Regions from separate parts of the Homo sapiens genome. Here region 1 is linked to region 2. Evidence: fine-mapped expression QTL. A gene starts in region 2. The other region holds a variant in brackets. All regions are shown on one strand. Distances are from middle to middle.

Region 1 (4,384 bases), 33 kb after region 2:
CTCCAGGTTCTTTGGCCTTTGGACTCTGGGACTTGTACCAGTGACTTCCCAGGGGCTCTCAGGCCTTCAGCTGCAGACTGGAGGGTGCACTGACGGCTTCCCTGGTTTTGAGGCTTTCAGACTCGAACTGAGCCACTACCGGCTTCTCTCTTTCCCTAGCTTTCAGACAGCCTATCGTGGGACTTGGCCATGTAATCGTGTGAGCCAGTTCTCCCTAATAAACTCCCTTTCGTATATACATGTATCTTATTGGTTCTGTCTCCCTGAAGAACCCTAACGCAAGTGTGGAATCCCCATGATGGGATTAGTGTCCCTTTCACTTGCGTAAAGAGACCACCAAACAGGCTTTGTGTGAGCAACAAGGCTGTTTATTTCACCTGGGTGCAGGCGGGCTGAGTCCGAAAAAGGAGAGTCAGTGAAGGGAGATAGGGGTGGGGGCCGTTTTGTAAGATTTGGGTGGGTAGTGGAAAATTACAGTCAAAGGGGGTTGTTCTCTGGCAGGCAGGGGCAGGGGTCACAAGGGCTCAGTGGGGGAGCTTTTGAGCCACGATGAGCCAGGAGAAGGAATTTCACAAGGTAATGTCATCAGTTAAGGCAGGGACTGGCCATTTTCACTTCTTTTGTGGTGGAATGTCATCAGTTAAGGCAGGAACAGGCCTTTCTCCCCCGCCCACCCCCAGACGGAGTCTCGCTCTGTCGCCCAGGCTGGAGTGCAGTGGCGCAACCTTGGCTCACTACAAGCTCCGCATCCCGGGTTCACACCATTCTCCTGCCTCAGCCTTCTGAGTAGCTGGAACTGCAGACACCCGCCACCACGCCCGGCTAGTTTTTTTGTATTTTTAGTAGAGGCAGGGTTTCACTTCACTGTGTTAACCAGGATGGTCTCGATCTCCTGACCTTGTGATCTGCCCGCCTCGGCCTCCCAAAGTGCTAGGAGTACAGGCATGAGCCACCACGCCTGGCCAAGAACAGGCCATTTTCACTTCTTCTATGATTCTTCAGTTACTTCAGGCCATCTGGATGTATACGTGCAGGTCACAGGGGATATGATGGCTTAGCTTGGGCTCAGAGGCCTCACAGTCCCTTTAAGAACAGGCACCAGAGAGCTTGCCCTCTCTCTCCACGTGTACACACGAAGAAGGGGTCACGTGAACACAGCAAAATGGCGGCCACCTACAAGCCAAGAGAAGAGGCCTGGGAATGAAATCTCCCTCCTCTGGCCAGGCGCGGTGGCTCACACTTGTAATCCCAGCACTTCGGGGGGCCAAGGCGGGCGGATCACAGTGTCAGGAGTTCGAGACCAGCCTGGCCAATATGGTGAAACCCTGTCTCTACTAAAAAAAAAAAAAATACAAAAATTAGGCATGATGGCGCGGGCCTGTAGTCCCAGCTACTCAGGAGGCTGAGGCAGAAGAATTGCTTGAATCTGGGAGGCGGAGGGTTGCAGTGAGCCGAGATTGCACCATTGCACTCCAGTCTGGGCAACAGAGCAAGTTCCGTCTCAAAAAAAAAAAAAAAAAAAAAAAAACAAGGAAGAGAGACCTAACTTGACACAGTCTCTTGCCCTTTCACCATGCGATGCCCTTCACAGTGTTACAAAGCAGCAAGAAGGCCCTTGAAACATGCCGGCGCCATGCACTCAGACTCCCAGCCTCCAAAACTGTAAGAAATAGTTTCTTATCTTTATAAATTATCCAGTATATGGATTTTGTTATAGCTACAGAAAACAGATGAAGACAACAGGCTATGTGGTTAGCATAGTGCCTAGCATGTGGTAAATACACAATACATGTTAGTGTTCTCAAGGACTAATTAAGGAATGTGTCACTGACACAGCCTGCTATTCAGACTGTGGGTTTGCTTTCTTCCTACCTTCAAGTTTGTTCCCACATACAAATCCTGTGAAGTTAACTATTTAAAATTCTCAACAGAAACTTAATTCTGTACATCAGAATGGAAAGTTTAAAGTCAAAGCCAGGCATGGTGGCTCACACCTGTAATCCCAGCACTTTGGGAGGCTGAGGCAGGTGGATCACCCGAGGTCAGGAGTTTGAGACCAGCCTGGTCAACATGGTGAAACCCCATCTCTACTAAAAATACAAAAATTAGCCGGTTGTGGGGGCAGATGCCTGAAATTCCAGCTACTTGGGAGGCTGAAGCAGGAGAATTGCTTGAACCCGGGAGGTGAATGTTGCAGTGAGCCGAGATTGTGCCATTGGACTCCAGCCTGGGCAACAAGAGCAAAACAACGTCT[CAAA/C]AAAAAAAAAAAAAAAAAAAAAAAGTCGAACAAACTGACAATTAGGACTATGCAGAGAGTGCTGAAGAAGTGTGCGTTAATGTCCTTGAGCTCAAAGACCTTCCATTTTTCAAACATTTAGCTTTGAAAGAAAGAATAGATGCACAGACCTTGAGTCTGAAATAGCAGGGAACATCAGTTCAGCTGGCACTGCCCTGTCACAAGGGGCTGTGGGGCTGGGGTGTGGGGGTAGAGTGAAGCACAGCTCAGGAAATGGTTACAATTTTGTGGTAGGAGTGATAAGTTTGTCCTCAAAGCTGAAGGTAAGAATATGCGTTTACAACAGATCTGCTCACTTCAGAATGGCAATGGTGCAACAGAATCTTAAAAACAACAACGATGCACATTTTCCTCAAAATAAAATTCGAAGAACAAATGAAATGGAACTCCAGTGGCGTTCTAGGTCCCAGGAACTCAGGACTTCTTGCCATTCCATTGTTAAACCCTCTGAACTCTTCTGAGGCGGTCGCCGTGGGCATGGGTTTTGTTTTCCATAAGACATTAAGATAAGTGCCACAAAATTCTCTTTGTTTAAATCTACTTCTGTTCTCATGGTAACGGAGGGTCCATCAGCACCAAAATATATAAAGGCACCAAGGCAGCGTGAAGATGTTACTACGACAACTGGAATTTAGAGGAGACATTTTTAAAGGCGTGTGGGAGGCTTTCACTTCGCTTTCTTCATGAAAGCCTGGGCAGGATGAGTCAGGCATTTTAGAAAACAGGGGTACGGGGGTACCCTGGGGTCTAAGGTCTGGGTGGTTCCACAGTCACAGTGCTGGCTGGGACATGGGATGACAAAGAGTGTTGGCTACAGAATTCTGTGAAATCTCTTCAGCGAAAGGTTGCTCTCTTATCAGGAATTATATAGAGAGATCTTTGTGTTGAGAGGAGGTGGGATTGAGGAGTATTTGCGGAGATGAACTCTAAATTTTAGTCTTCATGGAATTTGTAAATACAAGAAGACTAGGAGAAACAATCTTACATTTAAAAAGGTCCATTCAGGCCAGGTGCGGTGGCTCACGCCTGTAATTCCAGCACTTTGGGAGGCCGAGGCAGTGGATCACCTGAGGTCAGGAGTTCAAGACCAGCCTGGCCAACATAGTGAAACCCCGTCTCTACTAAAAATAAAAAAATTAGCCGGGCATGGTGGCACACGCCTGTAGTCCCAGCTACTCAGGAGGCTGAGGCAGGAGAATCGCTTGAACCCGGGAGGTGGAGGTTGCAGTGAGCAGAGATCACACCACTGCACCCCAGTTTGGGCAACAGAGTGAGACTTTGTCTCAAAAATGTAAATAAAAATATAAAAAAAATTTAAAAGGCCCATTCTCTGCCGGGCACAGTGGCTCATACCTGTAATCCCAGCACTTTGGGACGCCAAGACAGTCGGATCATGAGGTCAGGAGATCAAGACCATCCTGGCCAATATGGCGAAACCCCGTCTCTAAAATATAAAAATTAGTCAGGCGTGGTAGCGGGCGCCTGTAATTCCAGCTACTCGGGAGGCTGAGGCAGGAGAATCGCTTGAACCTGGGAGGTGGAGGTTGCAGTGAGCCAAGGTCAAGCCACTGCACTCCAGCCTGGGCGACAGAGCAAGACTCCATCTCAGGAAAAAAAAAAAAAAAAAAAAAAAGTCCATTTTCAAAGTAAATGAATAGTCTGTTCTCCAGTTTGGAATGTACAGGTACTACCAGGAACTTGAAAAGGATGTGACATTTCCATTTTCCTTTGAGGTTGTGAATTTATTTCTCATCCTGGGCCTAACAGAGCTAAAAATGTTGTCTTTGTTGTTATGTTTACTGTATATGCCTAATTTCAGTATTAGGGCTACAGCAGATCTGTGGACCAGCTGAGGGATGCCAGCCTTCTGCATGTGGCACCGGAAAAACCTCACACTCCGGGGTGAGCTCTGTGTCCTAGGCCCTCAGAGCCCCCTTCCAGTCCTTCGTGATGACTGCCTAGCCCAGCCAGCCCTCCCAGTTAATGGTGTTCATTTTCACCTGTTTGGGGTGATTTGACATTGCCCCCGTATCTGCCTGTTCTTCTCTGAAATGTCTCCTTAAGGCAGTCACTTCTGGCCGGGCACAG
Region 2 (4,384 bases):
GTAGCTACTGCCACAATCAGGATAGAGAGTATTTCCATCACTCAGGAATTTTCCTCTTAGCCCACCGCAGAGTCAATCCTCCCCCACCCATGGCACACCTCGACCACTGATCTACTTTCAAGACAGCTGAGTTTTAAAACTTGTAGCAGGAGGCCAGAGCAGTGGCTCACGCCTGTAATCCCAGTGGGAGGCCGAGGCAGGCGGATCACCTGAGGTCAGGAGTTCAAGACCAGCCTGGCCCCTGTCTCTACTAAAAATACAAAAATTAGCCGGGCGTGATAGCGCATGCTTTGTAATCCCAGCTACTTGGGAGGCTGAGGCAGGAGAATTGCTTGAACCCAAGGGGCAGAGGTTGCAGTGAGCAGTGATCGTGCCATTGCACTCCAGCCTGGGCAACAGAGCAAGACTCCATCTCAAAAAAAAAAAAAAAAGAAAAGAAAAGAAAAAGAAAAGAAAAGAAAAGAAAGAAAACAAAACAACCTTGTAGCAGGGCTCTGGATCTCTGATCTGGAGCTCAGGAAAAGCAGGGCTGGAACAGATTTGGGAGTGATCCCATAGGGGTAACCTTGGGAGAGCTGAGATAACCCAGAGAAGTGTAAGCGGCTGGGGTGGGCCAGCCCCATCCAGGGATGAAGACAGGCGCAAGAAGAGAAGAAAGTGCAGGTGGAGGGCAGGAGAATTTGCCATATCCAGGGCATATGGACTCATAAGAAAAACTCACAGACATATTAAAAGTAGCTGGAAGTTGGGTTTGCTCTGTTAATGAAGGATTAGGGAAAGCATATGTAAGAGAACCTAGAACATAAACAGTCCTCTTTGGAAGCCAGTTTGTCTTTCAAGAGAAAGCAAACAAAACACCACATCCTTGCAGAGCCTTCCAGGACCCTACTCCTGCTTCTTGGTCTAGCCTCCTCCCCCTGTCCCTAATTTTGGCATAATTGACTGCTCCTTGTCATCCAGATCTGTTTTAACGTCACCTCCTCAGAGAGGCCTTCCCCAGTCACCAATCTAAAAGAGCACCCAGTGGTCACATCAATTTAATGCAATATGCCATACTGTCCCTATCACTTTTAATGTCTGCCAGGCCCTCCATTTCAGCCACGACCACCTCCCCCAAATCACCCCTTAAAAGAACAAGGACTTTGCCTCATTCAGAGCTCAATTTCCAGGGCCTGGAAGAGTGTCAGGCACGTGGCAGATGCTCAATAACTGTTGAATAAAAAGGAATGATAGGCCGGGCAGTGGCTCACGTCTGTAATCCCAGCACTTTGGGAGGCTGAGGCGGGCAGATCACCTGAGGTCAGAAGTTCGAGACCAGCGTGACCAACATGGCGAAACCCCATCTCTACTAAAAATACAAAAATTAGCCGGGCATAGTGGTACGCATCTGTAATCCCAGCTACTCAAGAGGCTGAGGCAGGAGAATGGTTTAAACTTGGGAGGCGGAGGTTGCAGTGAACCGAGATGGCGCCACTGCACTCCAACCTGGGCGACAGAGAGAGACTCGGTCTCAAAAAAAAAAAAAAGGAATGACCAGTCATAAAAAAGAATGAGTCGTACCACCCGAAGTGTAGACTTCACCTGCAGGGAGGGAGGCTGGAACTGGCAAGGTTGGAGGCAAAACTGTACCTACTGTACCTTTCTCGCCCAATCCTACCTGCACATGAACTCCCTCCCCACCCCTTTAGTCTCTCGGGCCCTTACTCTCTTTATCCGGCTCTTTTGCAAACATTTCCCATGATATTCTCCCTTCACCGTCACAGTCCTTATGCTCGTTTCCCAAAAGAGCTTCTCCGATGATCTCTCCCAGGTTGGCCGAGTGAGCGGGCCTAGCCTGCGCTCTCACCCCAGTGCCACCCCAGTGGGAGCGCCGCCCGCGCCCGCCCCCTCGCCCCGCGCCCGCCCCCTCGCCCCGCGCCCGCCCCCTCGCCCCGCGCCCGCCGCTCCGGCAGCCCAAACCCAGACGCTAAAGCGCCGAACTGGGTTTCCGGGCGCTGGAGGCCGCGGTCGGCCTCGTACTAGGTGACGGCCCATCCCGCGCGCGCAAGCCCGGAACCCCGCTCCGCTCACCCTCCGCGCGCTGCCGCTTTGCCCTGGCAACGGTAACCACGGCGAGGCCCTGCCCCACGCCCGGTGATTGTGCGCGCGGCCCCGCCCCCGAGGCGCACGCCGGCCCAGCGCCCACAGCTGCGGCGGCCTAGGTGCCGCGTGGGGCAAGCAGGTGCCTCGCGTCCAGGCGGCTCCGCGGCTGGCTGCCTCCCGAGCCGGCCGCGCTCCTCCCAGCGAGGCGTGGCGGGGAGGCGTAGTGAGGCTGGGCCCGTGGCGGTTCCCTGAGGAGGGCCGAGAAGGGGCCGGGGGTGCTAGGGGAACGGGCGCTGGGGGCAGCGGCCCCGGTGGATGCTAAGGGCTTCGGGATCGGGAGAGTCCACCACGCCTGCCTGCTCGGCTGAGAATCGCCATGGTAATCCCCGTCTCCCTAAAGTACCCGGGGCCAGGGCGCGCGCCGTGGAGCCCCAGGCTGTCCCGGAGAGGCGCGGGCGCCGAGGTCACCGCCTCTCCCTGGGGTCGACCTCAACGCGTGGCGAAAAGATGGAGGGACAAGGGGTGCCCGGCGGTCCGCGCCTGCTGGGGGCGCAGCAGCCGCGGAGTCAGGCCAGCCGTCTTTCCAGGTTTTAGGTCGTGGTCCTGTTGAGCAGCCCCCACACCCAGACGGTTGATGTGGAAAATAAAGGGAGGGTGGCACCGTGGTGTGGCACGTCAGGGCGCCAGGCCATGCCCACAGTGACGGGTCCGAGCTGTTAGCTGCCGTAGCCACCCTGGGTGCCCGCGCGGGATTCTCCACTGCTCTGCAGACTCAGGAAGCAGAGAGTGAGCCTGGTACCACCACCTTGCTGTCAACAGCATTCCTGTTCTCAGCCCTCATCCAGTCACTTACGACCTCCTTCCAACCCTCGCTGCTCTTTCCAGAAGGGCTGTGACCTTCCAGCCCCTGCCCCAAGTCCTCAGGGAGGCATCATTGTCTGCTAAACTAAGTACTGCACGCTTGAGCTGGGCGCACAGAGCCCTTGCTAAAGGGGCCTCAACCTCGAGCTTTCTCTGCCATATCTTCTCTGCTAAACAACAACAAACAAAACGAACAAAAACCCTGCATCCCACACTAAACCCGCGTTCTTCTGGAAGCCCCTTGCGCCTTCCCTGTCTTGATCCGTTTTCTTTGAGGCTTGGATCAGAAGGACCCTGCCTCCTGCTTCCCCATCGCTCCTTCAGCGCCCACAGCCCTTTGCACCTCACCTCTGGTGCTTTGCCTGTTTTTCCTTGGAAAGCCTTATTCCTCATTAGACTCTAGTGTAGAAATCATTAAGTTTCTGTGTTCTTTCCAGTTTGTTTCGTGTAAAAGGATTAAGTAAAAATTTCTTGGTTTGAGAGTCATTCCATGAGCTATTAAAGGTAAAGAGCTATTACCTTTTTTTTTTTTTTTTTTGACAGGGTCTTACTTTGTCACACAGGCTGGAGTACAGTGGTGTGATCACAGCTGACTGCAGCCTCCATCTCTGAGGCTCAAGTGATCCTCCCGCCTCAGCCTCCCAAGTAGCTCGGACCGTAGGCAGGCATCACCATGCCTGGCTAATCTCTGTATTTTTAGTAGAGACAGGGTTTCGCCATGTTGCCCAGGCTGGTCTCAAACGCCTGGGCTCAAGGGATCCGCCCGCCTTGGCCTCTCAAATTGCTGGGATTACAGGTGTGAGCCACTGTGCCCAGCCAACTGCCATTTCTTTCAGGGCCCAGGGAACTGAGGCAGAATGCTGTACATAGCCATTGAAGCAAATGCCAGTTAATTCATGCTCCTTGAATGAGGGTCAAACACATTAGTGCACAGAGCCTGCAAGCCAGAGCGGAACCTTGCCTACCTTTCCTTCCTTAGCTGCTCTCACTGGCCCCCTTGGCTGCCTGTGGGCTGGCCATGTTGGCCTTTTTTGGGTTTCCGTCTCTTTGTGCACCTTCTCTCCGGCTTCAGAGACTTTGCATAGGCTGTTGGTCTTGGAATTCCCTACTCTCGGCCCACAGGCCACGCTTAGGGAGCCCTTCCTTTGATGGCCCAGATGAGGTCAGCCCTTGCCCATCTTGTGCTATTATAATTCCATGTGTTATAGGCATTATAGGGTCTTTCTTTATTAATTTCTTTGTTTTTGTTTTTTTTTTTTTAGAGATAGGGTTTTGCTTTGTTGCCCAGGCTGGAGTGCGATGGCATCATACATAGCTCACTTTGGCCTTGAATTCCTGGGCTCAAGGGGTCCTCCCACCTCAGCAGCCTGAGTACTGGGGACTACAGGTGTGTGCCACTGAGCCCAGCTAATTTTTTAAATTTTTGTAGAGACCGGATTTT

The links. PIP is the estimated chance that this variant, and not a neighbour inherited with it, causes the effect. A credible set is the group of variants that fine-mapping cannot tell apart.
Region 1: its variant is the best candidate, but not a certain one, in a credible set for the expression of SMKR1 in whole blood (INTERVAL, PIP 0.72).

What each region holds. Positions count from the first base shown.
Region 1 is chr7:129,533,603-129,537,986 of GRCh38, forward strand. No RefSeq gene overlaps it. Among named protein-coding and RNA genes, the nearest start is that of SMKR1, 33 kb to the left of the region's middle. RefSeq lists enhancers at 242-759, 760-1,277. The variant CAAA/C (reference allele first, on the strand shown) is at 2,255.
Region 2 is chr7:129,500,367-129,504,750 of GRCh38, forward strand. It overlaps SMKR1 (small lysine rich protein 1), which reads left to right and starts at 2,165. Exons shown (of 2, transcript NM_001195243.2): 1 at 2,165-2,461. The coding sequence starts at 2,459. RefSeq lists silencers at 1,864-1,913, 1,974-2,313.